Regions from separate parts of the Homo sapiens genome. Here region 2 is linked to region 1. Evidence: fine-mapped expression QTL. A gene starts in region 1. The other region holds a variant in brackets. All regions are shown on one strand. Distances are between the middles of the regions.

Region 1 (12,006 bases):
TGGCTCACACCTGTAATCCCAGCATTTTGGAAGGCTGAGGCAGGTGGATTGCTTCAGCTCAGGAGTTTGAGGCCAGCTTGGGAAACATGGCAAAACCTCGCCTCTACAAAAAATACAAAAATTAGCCAGGCATGGTGGCGCACACTTGTTGTCCCAACTACTTGGAGGCTGAAATGGGAGAATCACCTGAGCCCAGGAGATCAAAACTGCAGTGACCCATGATTATGCCACTGTACTCCAGCCTAGAGACAGAGTGAGACTCTGTCAAAAAAAAAAAAAAAAAGAAAGAAAGAAAGAAAAGAATAGAATAGAATTTGGGAACCTGGAAACCTCAAGGAGCTAGAACAAATGAGTAGAGGTACCCAGGGTACCAGAGACGGTAAGACCTTAAGGAAGATGAACAGGCAAAAGCAAACCAAAGAAAATCAAGGCAATTCTGGGAACTGCAAATTGATTTGAGATGTCAGCAGGATAGCCTGTGAGGTATGAGAAGATGAGCTGAAAAGCTGAACAACAGCCGAGCTTCTAGAAGCTTAGATTTTATCCAAACGTTAAGGTGAAAAACTGAAGGAGTTTATCAAGTGACTAGAATCAGATTTGCATTGTAATAAGCATATGCAGCTTCAGCTGAAGGTTAACTTTTTCAAGGATAAGCATTATCACCCACCCCTGGAAGGGCAGTCAATAACAAAAAGTCTGGTTTAAGGAGATAGAGGTTATCATGTGCTATCATACCACTTTAGAATATTTTTCTGGCTCCTATTCAGAAGTGCAACTGAGTTTAGCCATATCCAAAAGCCACCAAGGGCTTGGCGTGGTGGCTCACATCTGTGATCCGGGCACTTTGGAAGCCCAAGGTGGGAGGATTGCTTGTGCCCAGGAGTTTGAGTCCAACCTGGGCAACATAGTGAGATCTTCTCCATCAATCAAGCAGTCAACAACAAAAGCCACTAGGATAAGACAAAGATTCTTGCCCTGGCCCTTAATTTAGAATTCCTTGAAAGCATTCATTTTGAACTCCAACATAATTTAATTATTGTAAGACCCTTTCTAAGATCCTACTCATCTGGTCAGGTAATCTGTTCTAGCTATGACTCCTCAGTACCTCTCATAAGCATGCATCTCTCTTTGTGACAGATAAAGCCATACTTCTACTCCTATGTCCTCCAACTTGACTGGGAGCTCCTCTAGACAGAATCGATGGTTTATTCAACTTGTTTCCCCAGTGTCCAGCAAACATGGGACTAGTAGAAAGCCTTCCATGTCCTTTCTAACTACTGTGTTTACCAAAGCCTCATTAATCAGCAAAAAACACCATTTTCTCCAAAACCTGCAGGATAATAAGCTTCTATGACTACCTGTAAAGGGCTGGAACTCTTCCGAGGTCTCAGCCAGGGCACTTTGTGATTCAGTTGTGTCAACTGCTACAGAGAAAGAAACCTGCCCTCCAGTTTTGCAAAAAGGATAGTATAAATTTGGTTAGAAGACTGGGAACATCTCCTATCATGGACACATGGCTTATGTTATCACCTTTCCAGGAAAATTGATAGAAACCTGTGCACTCAAGTGGCATTTCCACACCTCCAGGGATTGGCTCTAAAGAACAGTGATAACCCTGCAGATAAAGCAGATGACAAAGTAAAAGCCAGAAGGCTGACCAGAGACAGGCAGGCAGAGAGACTCACCTGCTAGAAGGTGGGACTCTACCTAAATCGTGGACTTAGAGATTCCTTCACTACTTTCTCAGAGGGAAATGTATTTGAATTGGAAATAATTCCTGTTCATTAATTCCTCATAACTTCTAAATCTAGAACATGTAGCTATATGTTTCAACCCTGGAATTGATTTTTATATGAACTGAGCTACGGGTCCATAATGCTTTATCTCAAACAGTGGCCTCAATTTTGCCAGGAAGCAAGAGAAAAAGGAGTCAGCCAAGGAGTAAAGGAAACACAAAAAGGATGAAGTTATGGAGGTCACAGGAGGAAACTATTTTTCCCTTTGTTTCTTTAGTAACATATTTATGGTCTTTGCTTTTAAAAAAAGAAAAAAAAAAGCCTTCTTTTCTTCTTCTCTAACTTGAACAGTAATATGTACCCATGGTAAAAGTTTGAAGTTTTTTGTTTTTGTTCTTGTTTTGTTGTTGTTGTTTTTTGAGACAGAGTCTCGCTGTCGCCCAGGCTGGAGTGCAGTGGCACAATCTCGGCTCACTGCAGGCTCCGGCCCCCAGGGTTCACGCCATTCTCCTGCCTCAGCCTCCCAAGTAGCTGGGACTACAGGCGCCCACCACCTCGCCCGGCTAATTTTTTGTATTTTTAGTAGAGACGGGGTTTTACTGTGTTAGCCAGGATGGTCTCGATCTCCTGACCTCGCGATCCGCCCGCCTCGGCCTCCCAAAGTGCTGGGATTACAGGCGTGAGCCACTGCACCCGGCCAAAGTTTGACGTTTTAAGGAAGAAAATGAAAGTCAATCTTAAGTCCAACATAATATTCAAAAATAACTACCATCAATATTCTGCATACAAATGTACATTTTAAAAGCAAATCTGGGGTTGCACTGTTTATATATTGTTATAATCTGATTTTTCCACTTAATGTTACAAGCATTTTGATGCCTTTAAATATTCTACTAAAACATGATATTTATGGCTGCATAGTATTTCCTTAAATGGATTTAACTAGGGTATTTCTCTACTCTATAAGAGACACTCATCATAGCACTATCTAAAAGTACTTGATTATCCCTCTGATCATTTTCTTTGGATAAAAAACAAAGCTACTGGGTATGGAGAATAACCATTTGAAATATACTACCGCCAGGCGCAGTGGCTCACACCTGTAATCCCAGCACTTTGAGGGGCGGGGGCAGGTGGATCACCTGAGGTCAAGAGTTGGAGACCAGCCAGGCCAACATAGTGAAAATCAGCTGGGCATGGTAGCATGCACCTGTAATCCCAGCTACTCGGGAGGCTGAGACAGGAGAATCGCTTGAACCCGGGAGGCGGAGGTTGCAGTTAGCAGAGATCGAGCCACTGAACTGCAGCCTGGGCGACAGAGCAAGACTCCGTCCCCCCCCAAAAATATATACATATACTGCCAAATCGCCCTCCTGCGATGTGGGAGGAACCACATTCAAACCATTACACATGTAAAACACTGCACAACTGCTAAGAGATCAAGGTCTGAAAACCAGCCTTTGGGTTTGGCTTTCAGGAGGTCACTGTTATAGAAACCTTCTAGGGAAGGCTTTTTAAATGAAGTCCCATCTCAACTACTTTTTCTAAGCTTTAGTTCTCATAAAGAGCAAAGAGCTTTCAACCATCATCTCTGTGAAGAAAGCTGACAAATCTGTTCCTTGCCTTCAGATGTTGCTGCCACATTTCCAACTGCATTTCCAGGCAGATGTCCCTCGGTTACCTCAACAAATCGGAAGCCAAACAGGATACCTTTACCAAAGCTACCGCCCTCTCCTGACTTTCCTACTTTTTGTTCATTTATTGCATAAATGGTTTATTTAATATCCAAGTGGGTAAGGATACCACTCCTGCAGTGCAAGCCATGTGTCCAAAGTATTCTTTCCTAAATACAAGATGAAAGACATTCTGAGACATCCTAACACATTTGATGTTGTTTCTTCATACCCACTATTGATACTGGTGTATGGGTAGGCGCTTAGGGAAGATCTGGGCTAGCTCCAGACCCTCATCAGCTCTTGCTTGGATAAGTGCAATACCTCCTAACTTACCTCCCTACATTGTTTTCATCATTTCGGTACTCCTCAAAACTTTGTTTCCTCAAGCCTAATGGGATAAAAATCCAAATTCCAAGTCCTTCAAATCCAACTGCAACCTTCTTCCCAGCCTTATCTTCTGGTTCCTCACTCAAGCCGCCTGACTCAGTTAAGTCTTTCAGACTCCTTAACGAAAGGACATGATTATAGGTCCATATCCGCTTTGGTACCTTGATCTTTGTTGCTACTTTGTTCTCCACAAACGTGCCCTTTCCTGTCAGCTATCATCTTCTCTCTACCCCTAAAAATCTCACTCATTCCATGAATTTTCTGAACCATTCTGTCCTTTATTTGGGTATTAAGGTAATCAACTTTATTATTCAGGGTCGTAATATTTATTTTTTTTTTTCAGAGACAAGGTCTTGCTCCGCTGTCCAGGCTAGAGTGCAGTGGCACCATTATAGCACATTGCAGCCTTGAATTCCTGGCCTCAGGCGATCCTCCTGCCTCAGCCTCTCAAAGTGCTGAGATTACAGGCATAAGCCACCATGCCCAGCTTCAAGGTCATAATGTTATTAAGTTAAAAGGTGTATATACTCATTTCCTACACTATTGCTTCAAAGCAGAGCTCCAGCTATGAATGTTCGTTAGAAGGTACAGCAATGATAAAGGCACCCTTGTAGTCTGGCTAAAAACAGGCTACCTCATTAAATACGTTTGTAAATTCAGAACTTCCTACCTTTGGAGCCAACTTTTCCATCTGTACTGGTTTGACAGAAGCAGTAGGTTTCAGTTGTTTGTTGACATTTGTTGTTTTGGTGGGTTGAACTGGAACTTTGGTGTTCTGAGCTTTCTATAAGGAAAAAGAAACATGAATAGCGCAAGACAGCCAGCGTTGTGGGACTCAGCACTATACAGAATCGGCCTCTGTATTCACATTCAGTCTTCATCATTGTTACCTTAGCTACTTGTGCTGCTCTGGTTGTAACTCTATTTCCAATTTCTTCTAAAACAGTTCGCCTAATAGTCACATGACTCTTAACTTTAGAATTAACTCCTGTGTCAATATTCTCCAAATCACTGGACACCTGAAAAAAAAAAAAAAAAGTAATGAAACCTTGAAAGAATTTGAAATACTTTGCTAATGTTAGATACTCAAATTTAGAATTGCTTTGGGAAAGGACAATACGTCAAGATCTATTTGCAAGATGGAAAAGGTACATTTCAGGAAGTCTAAAAATGCTATTTGTGATTAATAACATCACTCTAAATTAGGCAAATCACCCATCTACTTTATCCGTAATAAAGATCCTCCCACTAACCTTGCAAAGCTATTCTGAGTATTCAAGTGGGCCTGTAAGAGAACTTCAAAGCTTATTAGTATTTAATGATTATTTCTCATATAGTACCCATATCACTTGTTAGAGATCCCTGCAAGTTAAAGGCATATATTTAAAAACCTTCCTTTACAGAGCTTGGTAAAAAGTAAATTAAGATGAAAAATAATAAAGCTATAATATTAATAGTTAATAATAGGTCTGGTTGTTTAAAAACCAGATGTTTAAAACCTAAACTAGCTTTGATTCTTATGCCATTTCACAAATAAGAAATGCTCCTGTATGCATGATCTTTTAGAACTACAGCTTTTTAAAATGAGGTTGCCATAGAATGGATTTTCTCTTATATTAAGGACATTTAGAATGGAAGTAGTTTTCTTGAGTAATATAGTTTTAGCTCCCAAACTCAGGGAAGGTTGGAATTGTATGAAATAAAAATTGTCAGTTGACCTTAACCTGCTTTAGACATAATGTGCTTGGAAATAAAACTTGCTAGGAAAAGCAACTCATACCAAAAAAAGTTTATTATAGAAGTGATAAACATTTCATTAAAAAAGAAAAAAGCAAAAAACCAGCATGTCCTATCCCTGAGAGTTCAGGGTCCCGACTCTAATAAAACTCCCAACAAGGGGTTTGAGTGGATCTACCAGGCAGAGAGAGGGGCCAGGGAAACTCAAGCCTTCCCTGAACAGAAAGGTTTTGACTATTAAATAACGTTATAGAATACATTATTATAAAAAATTACTTGTCAGTTGGACTTAGATCCACAAAAGGATATTAATTAAATGCTAAATGTATTCAATCTATTAGGATTCTCAAAAGTCACACTTCAATTTCTTCCAGCAGCAACTGCCAATCTGAAAAAGTGTTTGAAAATGTAATGCTTATGGGTAGAAGCCTGGTAATGTGACTCAATTTAAATTCATCTGGATAGGAAAATTGGCAGCTTTTATCTAACCTTATAGCCAAGATGATGGAACTCAGGTGTGTCAGGGCCCTCTAGCTTTCGGCAAAGGAAAAAAGTAGGTCCCGGTACAATTCAAGCCCACAGGAAAAATACCCAAAACACCATAACACTTTGATCTCTGCAAGGATGAAATAAATGAATTTGGACCCTTTTCTCTCAGTCTGCCACATTGGTCCAAATTATATTCAAAAACCTCTGTTACATTTGAGTAAAGAAATTAATTTTTTAAGGGGACAAACCCATTTATTAGTGAACGTAGCATGGAAGACTTAGCGTGCCGAAATAAATGGGAAACTCATACAAAAAGAAATGTGAACAATCTGAAAAACAGCCTGGCAGTTGCCTGATGAAACACGCCGTACACTTTACTGCCTACAGAACCCTTCCAGTCCTCCTCCCAGCCGCCATCACAGGTCCCTTAGTTGGCAAGGAGTTGTAAGAAAGGGGGAGGGAAATCCCAGGAACGTGGAAGTAGATAACTCTCTAGCAATGAAGAGCACTCGGGGATCGCTCGCTGAGTACTAGGCCTAGTGCTCTGGGGGCTCACTTGACAGGCGCCATCTCGGAAGCGCTTTCCTACACTTCTCCCACCCCGGGGCAGGGAGGGGTTAGGGGAGGGCGGAATCCAGACGGGGAAAGGCGGGCCGGAGAGGACCGGCCGCAGGGCCAGGGACGCGGGCGAAGCAGTGAGCTCCGGAGAAGAGAAAAGCAGCCCCGGTTGGGACGGAGAAGCTCGGAGCAGATGAGAGAAGCGACAGGGGAGCTGTGGGGCCGACGGACTCGCCTCTGAGAGCGGTCCCCGGGCACACTCACCGTCGGGCGTCGGAGCAGCGCCATGAGGGACGGGGAAGGCAAGAGTGCCAGCCCGGCCCAGGGAGGGACGCGGACTGAAAAGGGAGGACACTAGCGTACGAGGCGCCGTTAGGACTGCTCTCCGAGCCCGCAGCGCTGGGGATCTTCGACGCTGTAGCCTTGTTCCAGGATTCAAATACCGCGTCGCTTGCGCCCCATTGGGCGGCCCTGCGCACGGGTCGCTGTTCTCATTGGCCAACACAAGATGCACTCTCGCACTCTCATTGGCTGAATTTTCTTAGACACGTTTGATTGTCACAACAGCCGGTTGGGGTGTTTTTTCTGCCTACAGTCTTTTAAAAAAAAAAAAACCCCAGTCTCTGAGACAAACAAAAAGGAACTGTCTCATTGGGAAAGCAGACGTAGGACGCCTCTGAATTTTGACAAGGCCTCATCTACGAATTTCTCTCGACGTTTGTAGTGGGTGGGCGGAAGTTGGTTGGCCTTTATTCCTCTTCTGGTGTGTTGGGGTTTAAGTTGTGTTGGCCTGGGTGCAGGAACCGGCCCCTCCGGGTTGCTCAGGGATGCAGTGTGTTAGGTGGTTGAGATGCAAAAGTGTGCTTAAAAAAAGAGAGAATAATGGCGTTTACTCAAAAACCCAAATTCTCAAGTAAGGCAAAAAAAAAAAAAAAAAGATAAAAGAGATTTGTGTGACTGGTGATTCATGTAAGTTCTCCATTGTATTCCCAACACCTAGTACATCGTTTGTCGTATATGGTTGGTGCTCAATAAATGTTCGTCTAATAATCAGCCCAAGCAAAGAATTCATGTCTAAGACCCCAAAAGCAAATGCAACAAAAACAAAAATACATAAATGGGACCTAATTAAACTAAAAAGCTTCTGCACATCAAAAGAAATAATAGACAACCACAGATTAAGAGAAAATATTTGCAAACTATGCATCGGAAAAAGGCCTAGTGTCCAGAATCTAGAAGGAACTCAAATCAGCAAGAAAGAAAATAATGCCATCAAAAAATGGGCAAAGGACATGAATAGATATTTCTCAAAAGATATTCAAATGGCCAACAAATACATGAAAAAATGCTCAACATCACTGATCATCGAAGAAATGCAAGTTAATACCACAAGGAGATACCACCTTACTCCTGCAAGAATGGCCATCATTAAAAAGTCAGAAAAAAAGGCCGGGCGCAGTGGCTCACACCTGTAATCCCAGCACTTTGGGAGGCCTGTTGGGCAGATCATTTGAGCCCAGGTGTTCAAGACCAGCCTGGGCAACATGGCAAAACCCCGTCTCTACAAAAATACAAATATTAGCCGGGTGTAGTGGTGAGCACCTGTAGTCCCAGGTACTGGGAGGGGGGCGGGGGGCGGGGGGCGGGGGGCCGTGTGTTGGGGCAGGAGGATCCCTTGATCCCATGAGTCTGAGGCTGCAGTGAGCCATGATTGTGCCACAGTACTCCAGCCTGGGCAACACATTGAAACCCTGTCTAAAAAAGAAAAAAAACCTCAAAAAACAATAGTCAAAAAACAGTGTAGGCGTGGATGTGGGGAAAAGGGAATGCTTAAACACTGCTGGTAGGAATGTACAACTTCTATGGAAAAAAGTATGGTGATTCCTTAAAGAACAAAAAGTAGTTCTACCATTTGGTCCAGCAATTCCACTACTGGGTATCTACCCAAAGGAAAAGAAGTCATTATATGAAGAAGACACTTGCACATGTATGTTTACAGCAGCACAATTCACAATTGCCAACCTAAGTGCCCATCGACCGAGTGGGTACAGAAAATGTGGTATATATACACCATGGAATACTACTCAGCAATAAAAAGGAACAAAATAATGTCTTTTGCAGCAACCTGGATGGAGCTAGAGGCCATTATTCTAAGTGAAGTAACTCAGGAGTGGAAAACCAAAAACCGTATGTTTTCACTTGTAAGTGGGAGCTAAGCTGTGAATATACAAAGGCAAACACAGTGATATAATGGAATTTAGAGACTCAGAAGAGGGAGGGTGGAAGGGGAGACAGGGATAGAAACCTACATATTAGATAAAATATACACTACCTAGGTGATGGGCACACTAAAATCTCAGAATTCACCACTATATAATTCACCCACATCACAGAAAGCCACTTATATCCCAAAAGCTACTGAAATAAAATTTAAGTGTATTAATTAAAAAATATTCATCTAATAAATGATCTTATGATGTATGTAAGATTTAAGAATGAAAAACAAGGTGTGACACCAGTCTTGAGCAGAAGAGTGGGAGGATTAGCACAGTCCAAAGAGAACAGTATTAATGTTGCCCTTGTAAAAAGAAGCAGGTGAAGATCAAGACAGAAAAAGAAACAGGAAAGGAAAAAGTGAGATTAATGGGAAAAGAGAAGGAAAAGAGGAAAGGAGTGATCTAACACCCATGATATCAGGTTCCATTAAGAATCTGAAGGCCTGGCATGGTGGCTCACACCTGTAATCCCAGCACTTTGGGATGCTGAGGCAGGTGGATCACTTGAGGTCAGGAGTTCAAGATCAGCCTAGCCAACATGGTAAAAACCAGTCTCTATTAAAAATACAAAAATTAGCTGGGCGTGGTGGTGCAGGCCTCTAATCCCAGCTACTCGGTAGGCTGAGGCAGGAGAATCGCTTGAACCTGGAAGACAGAGGTTGCAGTGAGCCGAGTTCGCACCACTGCATTCCAGCCTGGGCAACAGAGTGAGACTCTGTCTCAAAAATAAATAAATAAAAATTTGACCGAGCTTTCCCATCATTCTTAAATGGTTCTGTTACTTGGGGACGAATAATCAGTGTGGTTGGACGAGACTTATGTAAAGTTAAATTCCTAAATTGCCTCAATCCCTATTGGTTGGAGGGCATCTGACAGTTCTGAACTTGTTTCCTCTTAGGTGAAACAGGAATAATTGCAGCTACTATGTGAAAAGATGTTAGCCTATCCATAATCATCCCATAACTAAAAACTAGGTATCCTATGGAAAAGTCTTGGAAAAGAAAAATAGATGTTTTAGTGCACTGAAGTTGTAAAATATTTTTGCTTTATGTTGATATGTTATCAAAAGATACAACCATAAAAGTGACAATGCTTGCTTACTCATAGGGCTTTTTTATGAACGGTAAAGGTGCTTTCTTATTTATTTATTTTTGTCGGGGTCTTGCTCTGTTGCTCAGGCTGGAGTGCAGTGGTGCAGTCACGGCTTACTGCAGCCTCGAACTCCTGGTCTCACACCATTCTCCTGCCTCAGCCTCATGAGTAGCTGGGACTACAAGTATATGCCACCACTCCCAGCTAATTTTTAAAAATTTTTGTAGAGACAGGGTCTCACTGTGTTGCCTAGGCTGGGCATAGTGCTTTTATTAACCGACTTGACATTGTCAAAATTGAGTAATTGAATCTGTATTAACACGTTTTATTTTATTTTTTATTTTTTGAGAAGGCGTCTTGCTCTGTTGCCCAGGCTGGAGTGCAATGGTGCAATCATGGCTCACTGAAGCCTTGACCAGCCAGGTTCAAGTGATTCTCCCACCTCAGCCTCCTGAGGATCTAGGACCACAGGAGTGAGCCACCTCACCGAGCTAATTTTTTTATTTGTAGAGAGGAGGTCTTGCTATGTTGCCAGGTTGGTCTCAAACTCCTGAGCTCAAGAGATCCTCCGGCTTTGGCCTCCCAAAGTGCTGAGATTACAGGTGTTAAAAATGAAGATAATATTTCTTATTTTGTACTTCTCACTGTAACTAACCTAAAACCTTACACACAAACTTCTTGTTTTGAGACAGGGTCTCCCTCTGTCACCCAGGCTGGAATGCAGCAGTGTGATCACAGCTCACTGCAGCCTCAATCCCCCGGGCTCAAGTGATCCTCCTACCTCAGCCACCCGAGTAGCTGGGACTACTCGGCTGGCTGATTTTTAAATGGTTTGTACAGATGGGGGTCTCACTATGTTGCCTAGGCTGATCCCGAACTCCTGGGCTCAAGTGATCCTCCTGCCTCAGCCTCCCAAAGTGCTGGAATGAACCACCATGCCCAGCCCATCCATAAATTTCTTTTTTTCAAATATCACCCTAGGAGGCCTGGCATGGTGGCTCATGCCTGTAATCCCAGCACCTTGGGAGGCCAAGGCGGGTGGATCACCAGGTCAGGAGATGGAGACCATCCTGGCTAACACAGTGAAACCCCTTCTCTACTAAAAATACAAAAAAAAAAAAAAAAAAATTAGCCAGGCATGGTGGCGTGTGCCCGTAGTCCCAGCTACTTGGGAGGCTGAGTGGCGGACGTTGCAGTGAGCCAAGATCACGCCACTGCACTTCAGCCTGGGTGACAGAGTGAGACTCTGTCTCAAAAAAATAATAATAATAATAAATCAATCACACTGGGAAACGGAAAGTTCTTTCACTGCTGATTCCTCTGAGAATATAAATCATTTTGCACATGCGCTTCTCTATATGCAAAGCTTTGGTTTGGGGGGAGAAGTAAATGCGTTCAGAAAGCTTGTGCTAGGTATTCTAACAAAACAATGGGGCTTGTTTTACCTCACTGTGGTGGATGAAAGAGTGCCCCCCTTTTTTTTTTTTTTTTTTTTTTTGCAGTGCCTTCTGTGAACAGGTGTAATCTATTTTCTCTCTCCTTAAATTTGGGCTAGCCTTGTTATTTACTTTAACCAACAGAATGTGAAAGAAGAGATGCTGTTCCAGTAACAGGATTGGGTCTTAGGAAGCAGTTTATTTCTCCCTTGGAGTCCTGCGTCACCACCATAGAGACCCAAGCTATTCCTTTCTAGAGATGACATTGAGAGAAATGCCCAGCGCATTATCACCTGTCCTAACCATCCCAGCTAACGCGTCAGATATGCAAGGTGAGGCCACGTGGACACTGTCTCAGTAGAACTTGCAGCTGAATGTAGCCACATGAGGAAACGTCATACCACAGTGAAAGATGAGCTATGCCTGCCCAGCACCGCCCAAATCACGCAACTGTGAGCAAATAAATGTGTTTTATAAACCACTCAATTTGGGGGTGGTTTGTTACAAAACAGGTAACAAATACACTTACCTGGGGGCATTCCAAGTCGTTGCACCAAATAAGCTTTTCGTTTGCTGGAATAGTCTTATCATCTTGGTTTCACAGGGGGATCACAGTTTA
Region 2 (12,006 bases), 28 kb before region 1:
AGAATTCCCAGCCGCAAATGTCAGTAGTGCAGATGTTGAGAAACTGCTCTGGATAAACTCTTGTATAAGAATATTTACAGCAACATTTTTGGAGGGGCAAAGGGGAGCTCTGAGGGGTAATAATGAAAGAATGGGAAGGAGACCTGAGGAGTAATAACTGATTGATAAAATGAGAGGGAAGTCTGTGGATTAATAATGAGGGGGTGGGAGGGAAGATTGTGGAGTAATGATGAGGGTATGAGGGAAGTCTGCAGAGTAATAATGAGCAGGTCGGAGGGAAGTGTGAGGAGTAATAATGAGGGACGGGAGGGAAGTCTGAGGAGTAATAATGAGGAGGTAGGAGGGAAGTCTGCAGAGTAATAATGAGGGGTAGGAGGGACATCTGTGGAGTAATAATGAGAGGGCAGAAAAGCCTGTAGAGTAATAAGGAAGGGGTAGGAGGGCCGTCTGCAGAGTAATAATGAGGGATGGGAGGGAAGTTTGACAAGAAATAATGAGAAGGTGAGACGGAAGTCTGAGGAGTAATAATGAGGGGGTAGGAGGGATGTCTGCAGAGTAATAAGGGGGTGGGAAAGAAGTCTGCAGAGTAATGAGCGGGTGAAAGGAAAGTGAGGAGTAATAATGAAGGGGTGGGAGGGAAGTGTGAGGAGTAATAATGAGGGATGGGAGGGAAGTGTGATGAGTAACAATGAGCGGTGGGAGGTAAGTGTGAGGAGTAATAATGAGGGGTTGGGAGGGAAGTCTGAGGAGGAATGAGGGGGGTGGGAGGGAAGCCTGAGGAGTAATAATGAGGGGGTGGGAGGGAAGTGTGAGGAGTAATAATGAGGGATGGGAGGGAAGTCTAAGGAGTAATAATGAACTGGTGGGAGGGAAGTCTCTGGAGTAATGAGGGTGGGTGGATAGATGGGATGGGAGTAGACAGGAGTGAGGTCTGAGGCATAATAAGGTTGTGAATGGGGAGCAAATCTCATGGCAGCATTTTTTATAATAGTGAAAACTGGAACCATCCCAAGTGACCATCCACAGTGCCCTGGAGAAGTAAACTGTGACACACTCACTCGCGCAGTGGTGTAGTATCAGGCAGCAAGGGTGAAGGAACGATAGCTGCAGGCATCAGCAGGGCACGTCATCCAGTTGTTGAGCATGTGACCGTGGAATATGATTCCTTTCATACAGTTGACAGTCGGACCACAAATATTGGCTAGGGGTATTTACATGTGTGGCAAACTGTAGAGATGAGCCAGAGAATGGTTAATACAAACTGTAAGGTGGTGGTAATCTGGGGGGAATGCAGTGAAGGAGAAATGCCTACAGGCTTCTGTGGCACCTGCAAAAGTTCCATTTCGAAACTTGAGGAAGGAGGGACAGATACCTGAATGTTCCTGATTTAAATGTATGGGTATACTTTTGACACTTTTTTATGGATATGTGTCTCCCACATTTCCTTCTATGCTGGGGACACAGTGACAACAGCAGCTAAGGTTTTTAAGAGCTATGTGCATTTGCAACAACCTTGTCAGAAAAGTTACTTTTATTCCTCAAGTTTAAAGACTGCACCCTGGGCCACATGTCTTCTAAGGATGGAGCTGGATTTGAACTTGAACAGGCCAGTGCCGGCCGCCATGCTCCAAACCACCGTTCGGTGCTGCTGCCCCCTGTTGGGGCCCAGTCTCATCTGCTCCACTCTCTCCACAGGGTCAGGAGACAAACAACCAGTCGGCCTCCCCCAGCAGGGGGCAGACCCAAGCCCCAGCCCAAGCCCAAGCCTCAGGTGCCACAGTGCAAGGCTTTGTATGCCTATGACGCTCAGGACACAGACGAACTCAGCTTTAATGCCAATGACATTATTGATATTATCAAAGAAGGTAAGTGTGTGGCTGGTTGGCTGGGACAGCCTCCCAAAGAGCATGCAGTCACATTGCTGTAAGATCTAGTGTGAAAATGAAAAGAATTTATGGGCTCCTCAAACTGCAATTTGTAGAGGCAGGTCAGGCCTCAGGCTCAGTCTGATCAAGACACCAGCTTTTTTAATGCTTCTTTCAGCTCTGCCCCCTTATTTATATTCCCTCCCTTGTCAAGCTGTTTTTCTTCATGGTAGCAAAACGGCAGCAGCAATTCCAGGCCAACATATCAAACCATGTCTGAAATGTGCATCATCTCTGAAACTTCTGTTCTTAGTCATTGGACAAAAGTCCTGACTTTTATTCTGATCAGACCAAATTAGCCATGTGTCCATCCCTGAACCAACTTCAGTAGCAAGACAAAGGCTGTACCCTGAGAGGATGAGACCTGGTAGGGGCTGTCCCCAGAAACGGGGAGGTCTGTCCCACCCACACTTCCTGGCTTCTTCATAATGAAAGTGGATGGAGTGGAAGCCAGGAAGACAACCTTGAATATCCATTATTAAAGCAGTCCATGGGCTTGGCTGAGTGCTTTATTAATTTGGTAGATATCTTACTTTTTTCAACAAACTTTTTGATTTAAAGAACAAAGGGAAAACAACATGGATGGAGCCAAATCACTTGAGCCCATGGGAGCGGAGTGTGTGTGGCTGGGGCAGAACAGACTTTCTCATCTTCACTTCCACCACCTCTCTCTCCCTGCAGATCCTTCTGGCTGGTGGACGGGTCGACTACGAGGCAAGCAGGGCCTGTTCCCCAACAACTATGTGACCAAGATCTGAGGTGCCCGTGACTCTGACACATGGGGCAGAGGAGCTCCAGGCACAGACCAGGGGAGGGGATATTTAGGGGCTCCCCTTACAATCCACAATGAGCAATTGCTTCTCCAAGGCCTGGAGCTATTCTGGTACCTTCCCCATGGAGGACACTGAAAAGGCTGGGTTGGGGACAGGGAGTATCACTCCATAAGTGATCCTAAAAGGTAGCCTCTTCATAGGAACCCAGGAGGACAAAACCACCATGCATTAAGATTTATTTATTGTATTTAAACCTGGTGAGAGGACAAGTGAGGTCTGCTCAGACCTTGTAGGCTTCTATCAAAACAGCACCCTGCTTGCTCACCAGGCCTAGAGAATGGCTGTAGGTGGCCGCTGACAAGTGCCTTTAGTTGAAGAGCACATTTCTTTCATCTCTCTTGTCCATACCTGATAGACACATTCCTCTCTGCCACCTTCCTTCAGGGAGGACCCGCCCTCTGCAGACTGGGCTTAGCGTGAGCAGGCACTTCCCATGTACGTGCCAAGGGTAAGCTGGCCTGCTGAGCCCAGGGCGACAGAGGGGCACTGGTTTACACTTTGCCGGGACCATCAGGGCCGCCAAGCAGGTCAGGGGCTGGGGGCTGGGGGCTGGGCTGCTGGCTTTGCTTTCTCTGGGTCTTCAATTAGAATGTGGCTGGCCCATATTGGTTTGTGTTTAAATGCTGTACTTACTACAAGAAGGATCTTTTTTCAAGCTGTACATTTATAAAAACAGATCATATACTGTATATATAAAAATCTTGAGATGGTAGAAACATGTATGAATGTACTAAGTAGTATTCCACTGTACTCATTCATAAGGTAGGTTTTCTTACAAAACTCACACCAGGTACTTAAAGATGTGCTCTGCTTTTTTCCAACTACGGAGTGTCACTGCTTTCTAGGTCAGTCCCTGCAGACTCTTCTCAACTCTTTCCCTATAGGAAACTTACTCCGCGTCCTGCCCCCACCTCCTAAATAAATAAAGGAATCGGCGAACACCTTCTTCTTTTATGACATTTGTTATGGGTTGAATTGTGTGCCTCCAAAGAAGATGTTGGAGTCCCAGCCACCAGTACCTCACAATATGACCTTATTTGGAAATAGAGTCTTTATGGAGCAAACAAACAAAACTAATTAAAATGAAGTCATTAGAGTGGGTCTTAATCCAATATAATGGTGTCCTGATGAAAAGGGGAAATTTGGACACAGAGACCAACATGCCAGAGGAAAGACCATGTGAAAAGGCAGGGAGAAGACAGCCATTCACAAGCCCTGGACAGAGGCCTGGAACAGATTCTCCCTCACACCCTCACAAGGAACCAGCCCTGCCCACCTTGGTCTTGGACTTCCAACCTCCAGAACTGTGAGGCAATACATTTCGCTGTTTAAGCCACTCGGTTTGTGGTAGTTTGTTACGGCAGCCCTAACAAACTAAAACAATGTTTTCTTGCCATAATAGTGAAAAGCTGGAATCAGTGTAATGCCCATCAATAATGGAATGGTTGTAAGTAGAGACTGCCATTTCTCTACCTTTCCTCCTCTGGGTGCCATAGCCATTCTTAAGCTACTGGTAACTTAGAGTTTGAGCAGCATACACCTTTGAGGCTTTCAGGATCCTCAAGTCCATGGGAAAAAATTATCAGGGCTTACGTATAAGGGAAAAAAATTGATCTAGATTTGAAACGAAGATACATTTAATTCTGCTGTGTTTTACTTCAAGAACAGGGAGCAAACTCCATTCTGTAACAGTAAC[G/A]AATAATGTTAAAAGGCTACTTCAGTTCCATGTTGCGACCAGAGAGGAAAGTAGAGCCATGATGCGGTGAGTTGAGGAAAGGTAATCCTGTTGACACTAGTGGTCTCTAAAGTACTTTCACATTCATGGACTCCCCGCAGTGGGAGGAAGATACCACCAGAACTGGGACAGAGGAGCATGCTGGAGTCCCCACAGCCACCAGCACTCAGGCTGCGTTCTCAGGGCAGGAACACCAGGACCATCTTCCCTTGTTATCATAAGCCCCTGGCTGGCTGGGACAAGCCTTTGTTTTTCCTCCTGATTGATTGATTGGCATTTTACACTTGTGTGTAACTGGGAACCATCGGGCTCTAGGTCACAAAACAGGGACTGAGTTAAACCCCCACGAGTAACACCCTCATCCATGGAAATCACAGACCAAGCCCTTAGCACCTGCATCGTGTGCCCAGCCAGTGCCAGGCTCAAGGAGATGCCCAACAAATGGTGCTGAAATAGGTAAGTGACCCACAGGGGAAGGAGACTTAGATCTGCGTAGAGATGCTGAAATGCTGACACTATTAAGAAAAGTTTGGAGAAATAGTGGTTTATCTTAAACTTATTTGTATATATTTAGAAATTCAACATGGGGACTACCAGAAAAATCTGGGATAAATAACATTTCCCTTTTTTTCCTAATTAAAAAGTCTTCAGAAAAATGTCTTTTTTCCCTTTAAGACACTAACCTGGGTTTCCTCTAGTCTGTGGATCTAGCCTGGCCTGCCATTTTGTTCACTGTGCAGTTAAGCAAATATGACCACTTTAGGAGTCACTTACCAGGAAAGAACATACAGAAGATCAAGGGGCCACCCCCACCTTCTGGAACTTGCCATCCTGTTTGAAATAAGGGGTGTTCATGTGCACACACAGCAACGTGTATAGCAGTATCAAACACAGTATAAAAATGTGACATCCCTTCAACCAAAGGTTTTAAGTAACCAGGAACTAAATGAGAAGGCCTGACTGTGTACCCTAGGGTAGAGGTGTTCAAGCTTTAGTTGTAGAAGAGAGAGAGACAGAGGTCTGTATAAGGGTGGTATCCACTCTACTGATGGCCGTCTGTGAGACAGAGAGAGGCTGATCTGAAACTCCTGGGATCAAACGATCCTCCTGCCTCAGCCTCTCAAAGTGCTGGGATTATGGGCAAGAGCCACCGTACCTGGCCAACTGGCTTAAAGACATGCAAAAGGGCCGTCTCTTCCACAGTGTTTTGTGAAACAATACAGAGACATGTGGAGAGGACAAAGGGTGAAGCCTTCTTGAATAAGCTTGCTCCCCAACCATGAAGGATGCCAACCCACTGACCTCCCAACGTGTGGTCCCAGCCCATCGTAATCAAACCTGACTCCCCACTACTACCAAGTCCAGCCCAATGAAGGTAGAAAAGCATCGTGCAGTTTCCTCCTTAAAGGACCTGCCCTGTGTGCACACCATGTCCACCAATATTCTGCTGGCCAGAGCTTAGTCATGTGGCCTCAACTCAAGGGGGCTGGAGGTCTCTGCACAGAGCTGTCTCAGCAGCTTACCCAGAGCACCAGAGTGACAGCGGGCTCCTGCCAGGTGGAAGTGTTCACAAAAATGAGTAAGAGAAAATATGGATGTGCCTTTATGAATTACAAACTCCATGGGCTTCCATAGAGCATGGCTTTTACATAATCTAAATTCCTTCTCTTTGCGACTCCCTCCTGAACTCATCCCCAGACCCTCCCTGAGTGGAGCTGGTCACACCAAGTCAGCCTGTGCCTCTAGTTGCTACCATTTCTTTTATAGGTGTTGTCCCAGTTAAGATTTCACTGGCAGTAGGGCTGGATTCTGGTTTCCAGGGCAATCAAGAGCAGAGCATGAACGGTGCGTCTTTGGTAGACAATTTAACTCTGTGTTTCTGGCACCCCTCACTTTTGTGATCAAAAGAAAGACCAGAGGAGCCTTTCTGCAATTCTGCCCTCTTTCCCTGTTTTGCTTTTCTCCCAAGGCCTAGCTGATTGATTGCAGTTCTTTCTGGATTTAGTAACTTGGTTTTATTCCTACCCACTAATCTTGATGTCTTTTTCCCTACTAGATCATACCTTTCCACTCTGAGCACCCTTTCTAACAAGAAGACTGGCTCAGTATGGTTCACTAGGTCGCCCAAGGTCACACAGTTCTTCCCTGGGGGAGCCATCACAGGAACTCTGAGTCAAAGGCCTGTGCGTTTTTATTTTCAGACAGCACCTCACTTTGTCACCCAGACTAGAGAACAGTGGTGCGATCATGCCTTACTGCAGTCTCAAACTCCAGGGCTCAGGTGATCCTCCCACCTCAGCCTCCCAAGTAGCTGGGACCACAAGCATGTGCCACCACATTCGGCTAATTATTTGTACAGATGGGGTCTCCCTGTGTTGCCCAGCTGGTCTCAAAGCTCTGGGCTCAAGCAGTCTTCCCGCCTTGGCCTCCCAAAATTCTGGGATTACAAGCATGAGCCACTGTGCCCAAAAGGCCTGTGCTTTTAATCATTTTCTCCAATTCAACAGATATTTAGTAATGTGATGGTCTACTGTGTCAGCCTTTCAACTTCCAATATCTTCCTCTCAGAACATAAAAGTCTATTTAAAAAGAGAGAGAGAAGAAAACTCACGCATAAAACTCAACAGCTAGAAACTTGTAAGCTCCTTTAATGGGCAGGAGCTCCATCTAACAAATCTGAATCCTCTGATTCATCTCTTTCCAAGACCATTAACCTTCTCTTTAAAATAATTAACAGCTATGTTCAAGTATCTTCTTCACACTAGAAGCTATACTAAGTGCTTGGCATACTTTACTTAGCACCACCCTATGAGGGAGACACTCTTATCCCCACTTCACAGGTACAGAAACTAAAGTATAGAGATCACCACTACTTAAAATCAAACCCAAAGCACCCACGTTCAGAGTTAGTGCTCTTCTATACTATGGATACATCATCTCATTTTTAATTTCCGTGTTTTTATGATATGGTTTCTACTTCTGCCACTCATTTCCCATTTATGACATTTTAGTTTGGGGTGCCTGCTGTGCCATCTAAGAAAGTATCTTAAAGGTCTTTTTTTATGACATCCTGGAAGAATTTCCTAAGTCAGGACATTTAATATTTAACTAAGTAAAATATGTAATAAGGAAGCTATAAAATGTCTTTGGAATATGCTTACAAAACTCAGGCGTTCTTGGAGAGAAGTTGAGCTCAAGCATCTCTGGGAAGTAACTGCTTGTCAGAGCCAGGAAAGCTCCCTTTCATGGTCTCACTTCGTTACCATTCACACTTGTGATCAGAGTTGTCCAAGGCTGCCATGGGAACAAGCTTCACTAACCCAATAAGGGATATTCATAAAACTCTATACTAGGATTTCAGCATATAAAGATACCCAAAACTTACAGTTAAAGACATACTAGTCAGGCAGTCCTGCCTGCCCAGGAAGAGAGTAAAAAGCCAGCCCTAACTGGAGCCAGTTTCTCCTCCCCAGGGGCAGTTGTCCTCAAGCTGCACCTGAATCAAAAGAGCAGACGCTGAATTTCTCTGTCAGCAAGAGGCAACCACACTCTAGGTTGGGGAAAATAACTGAGATAAATGAGTTTACTGCAAAGCACAGAACCTTTATGAATCTTCCAATCATTTGCAATGTTTCACAAGTGTATTTGACTAACTAACTCCTTTCTCTTACAACACCAATTAACATCTTGTTAAACCAACGTCTTGGGAAGTTGTTTTTATACGAGACTCACTATGTTTATGGTTTTTGTTTTTAAGTCAATGGTTGGAGGCTGAGGATGCACTCCCCCCGTAGAAAACAATGTTCGAGCGTCCCAGATCGACCTCAGACTGCTGAGCTAGCAGTGAGAATTTCAAGCCAATGGGTGTTAGCTTGCTGGGCTCCGTGGGGGTTGGACCTGACGAGCCAGGCGCCACAGGGAATCTGCTGGTCTGCCGCCGGTTGTGAAGACTGGGAAAAGTGCAGTGTCTGGGCCGGAGTGTACCTTTCCTCCAGGTACAGTCTCTCACGGCTTCCCTTGGCTAGGAAAGGGAAATCCTCCGACCCCTTGCGCTTCCCGGGAAAGGCAACACTCCACCCTACTTCTGCTCGCCCTCCATGGGCTGCACCCACTGTCCAACCAGTCCCAATGAGATGAACCAGGTACCTCAGTTGGAAACGCAGAAATTACCTGCTTGGTTGGGGGAGGGGTGCCTGCCATTGCTGAGGCTTGAGTAGGTGGTTTTACCCTCACAGTGTAAACAAAGCTGCCCGGAAGTTCAAACTGGGCAGAGCCCACTGCAGCTCAGCCAGGCTGCTGCAGCCATACTGCCTCTGTAGATTTCCTCTTTCCTGGGCAGGGCATCTCTGAAGATACGGCAGCAGCCCCAGTCAGGGACATATACATAAAACCCCCATCTCCCTGGGACAGAGCACCTGGGGGAAGGGGCGGCTGTGGGCACAGCTTCAGCAGACTTAAAAGTCCCTACCTGAGAGCTCTGAAGAGTGCAGCAGATTTCCCAGCACAGCATTCGAGCTCTGATAAGGGACAGGCTGCCTCCTCAAGTGGGTCCCTGACCCCCGTGTATCCTGTCTGGGTGACACCTCCCAGTAGGGGCCGACAGACACCTCATAGAGGAGAGCTCTGGCTGGCATCTGACGGGTGCCCCTCTGGGAGGAAGCTTCCAGAGGAAGGAACAGGCAGCAATCTTTGCTGTTCTGCAGCCTCCGCTGGTGATACCCAGGCAAACAGGGTCTAGAGTGGACCTCCAGCAAACTCCAGCAGACCTGCAGAAAAGGGGCCTGTTGCAAGGAAAATTAACAAACAGAAAGGAATAGTAGCAACATCAACAAAAAGGACGTCTACTCAGAGACCCCATCCGAAGGTCACCAACATCAAATACCAAAGGTAGATAAATCCACGAAGATGGGGAGAAACCAGCACAAAAAGGCTGGAAACTCCAAAAACCAAAAAATGCCTCTTCTCCTCCAAAGGATCACAACTCCTCACCAGCACGGGAACAAACCTGGACAGAGAACAAGTTTGACAAACTGACAGAAGCAGGTTTAAGAAGGTGGGTGATAAACTCCTCCGAGCTAAAGGAACCTGTGCTAACCCAATGCAAGGAAGCTAAAAACCTTGAAAAAAGATTAGACGAATCGCCAACTAGAATAACCAGTTCAGAGAAGAACATAAATGATCTAATGGAGCTGAAAAACACAGCACAAGAACTTCATGAAGAACACACAAGTATCAATAGCCAAATCAAGCAGAATAAAGGATATCAGAGATTGAAGATCAACTCAATGAAATAAAGCGAGAAGACAAGATTAGAGAAAAAAGAGTAAAAAGAAACTAACAAAGCCTCTAAAAAATATGGGACTATGTGAAAAAACCAAATATACATTTGAGTGGTGTACCTGAAAGTGACAAGGAGAATAGAACCAAGTTGGAAAACACTCTTCAGGTTATTTATCCAGGAGAACTTCTCCAACCTAGCAAGGCAGGACAACATTCAAATTCAGGAAATACAGAGAACACCACAAAGATATTCCTCGAGAAGAGCAACCTCAAGACACATAATCATCAGATTCACCAAGGTTGAAATGAAGGAAAAAATGTTAAGGGCAGCCAGAGAAAAAGGTTGGGTTACCCACAAAGGGAAGCACATCAGACTAACAGCAGATCTCTCAGCAGAAACCCTACAAGCCAAAAGAAAGTGGGGGCCAATATTCAACATTCAAAGAATTTTCAACCCAGAATTTCATATCCAGCCAAACTAACCTTCATAAGCGAAGGATAAATAAAATCCTTTACAGGCAAGCAAATGCTGAAAGATTTTGTCACCACCAGGCCTGCCTTACAAGAGCTACTGAAGGAAGCACTAAACATGGAAACGAACAACTGGTACCAGTCACTGCAAAAACATACCAAATTATAAAGACCATGGACACTATGAAGAAACTGCATCTACTAACGGGCAAAATAGCTAGCATCATAATGACAAAATCAAATTCACACATAACAATATTAACCTTAAATGTAAACGGGCTAAATGCCCCAATTAAAAGACACAGACTGGCAAATTGGATAAAGACTCAAGACCCATCATTGCGCTGTATGCAGGAGACCCATCTCACACACAAAAACACACATAGCCTCAAAATAAAGGGATGGAGGAATATTTACCAAGCAAATGGAAACCAAAAAAAAAAAAAAAAAAGCAGGGGTTGCAATCCTAGTCTCTGATAAAACAGACTTCAAATGAACAAAGATCAAAAGAGACAAGGCATTACATAATAGTAAGGGGATCAATGCAACAAGAAGAGCTAACTATCCTAAATATATACACACCCAATACAGGAGTACCCAGATTCATAAGGCAAGTTCTTAGAGACCTACAAGGAGACTTAGACTCACTCCCACACAATAATAGTGGGAGACTTTAGCACCCCACTGTCAACACTAGACAGATCAATGAGACAGAAAATTAACAAGGACATCCAGGACTAGAACTCGGCTCTGGATCAGGCAGACCTAACCATCATCTACAGAACTCTCCACCACAAATCAACAGAGTATACATTCTTCTCAGCACCACATCACACTTATTCTAAAATTCACCACATAATTGGAAGTAAAACACTCCTCAGCAAGTGCAAAAGAATGGAAATCATAACAGTCTCTCAGACCACAGTGCAATCAAATTAGAACTCAGGATTAAGAAACTCACTCAAAACCGCACAACTAAATGGAAACTGAACAACCTGCTCCTGAATATCTACTGGGTAAATAACGAAATGAAGGCAGAAATAAAGATGTTCTTTGAAACCAATGAGAACAAAGACACAAGGCACCAGAATCTCTGGGACACATTTAAAGCAGTGTGTAGAGGGAAATTTATAGCACTAAATGCCCACAAGTGAAAGCAGGAATGATCCAAAATCGACACTCTAACATCACAATTAAAAGAACCAGAGAAGCAACAGCAAGCATATTCAAAAGCTAGCAGAAGGCAAGAAATAACTAAGATCGGAGCAGAACTGAAGGAGACAGAGACACAAAAAAACCCTTCAAAAAAAATCAGTGAATCCAGGAGCTGGTTTTTTGAAAAGATCAACAAAATTTCAAAGACCGCTAGCCAGACTAATAAAGAAGAAAAGAGAGAAGAATCAAATAGACACAATAAAAAATGATAAAGGGGATATCACCACCAATCCCACAGTAATGTAAACTACCATCAGAGAATACTATGAACACCTCTACGCAAATAAACTAGAAAATCTAGAAGAAATGGATAAATTCCTGGACACACACACGCTCCCAAGACTAAACCAGGAAGAAGTCGAATCCCTGAATAGACCAATAACAAGTTCTGAAATTGAGGCAGTAATTAATAGCCTACCAACCATAAAAGTCCAGGACCCGACTGATTAGCAGCCAAATTCTACCAGAGGTAAAAAGAGGAGCTGGTACCATTCCTTCTGAAACTATTCCAAACAATAGAAAAAGAGGGAATCCTCCCTCACTCATT

Direction of the effects. Alleles are on the strand shown, and positions count from the first base shown. SD is a standard deviation of normalised expression in the study named.
For the expression in tibial nerve of the gene that starts at base 6,994 in region 1, A is the low allele of the variant in region 2 and G is the other (small effect, 0.31 SD a copy in GTEx).

What was found.
Region 2: its variant is fine-mapped to the expression of CCNB2 in tibial nerve (GTEx, PIP above 0.99).

Annotation. Positions count from the first base shown.
Region 1 is chr15:59,100,134-59,112,139 of GRCh38, reverse strand. It overlaps CCNB2 (cyclin B2), which reads right to left and starts at 6,994. Exons shown (of 9, transcript NM_004701.4): 1 at 6,848-6,994; 2 at 4,690-4,818; 3 at 4,470-4,583. The coding sequence starts at 6,871. RefSeq lists an enhancer at 7,182-7,471.
Region 2 is chr15:59,128,057-59,140,062 of GRCh38, reverse strand. MYO1E (myosin IE) reads left to right here. Exons shown (of 28, transcript NM_004998.4): 27 at 1,696-1,865; 28 at 2,607-7,629. The coding sequence ends at 2,683. Among named protein-coding and RNA genes, the nearest start is that of CCNB2, 29 kb to the right of the region's middle. RefSeq lists enhancers at 1,559-1,853, 8,128-8,627. The variant G/A (reference allele first, on the strand shown) is at 4,455.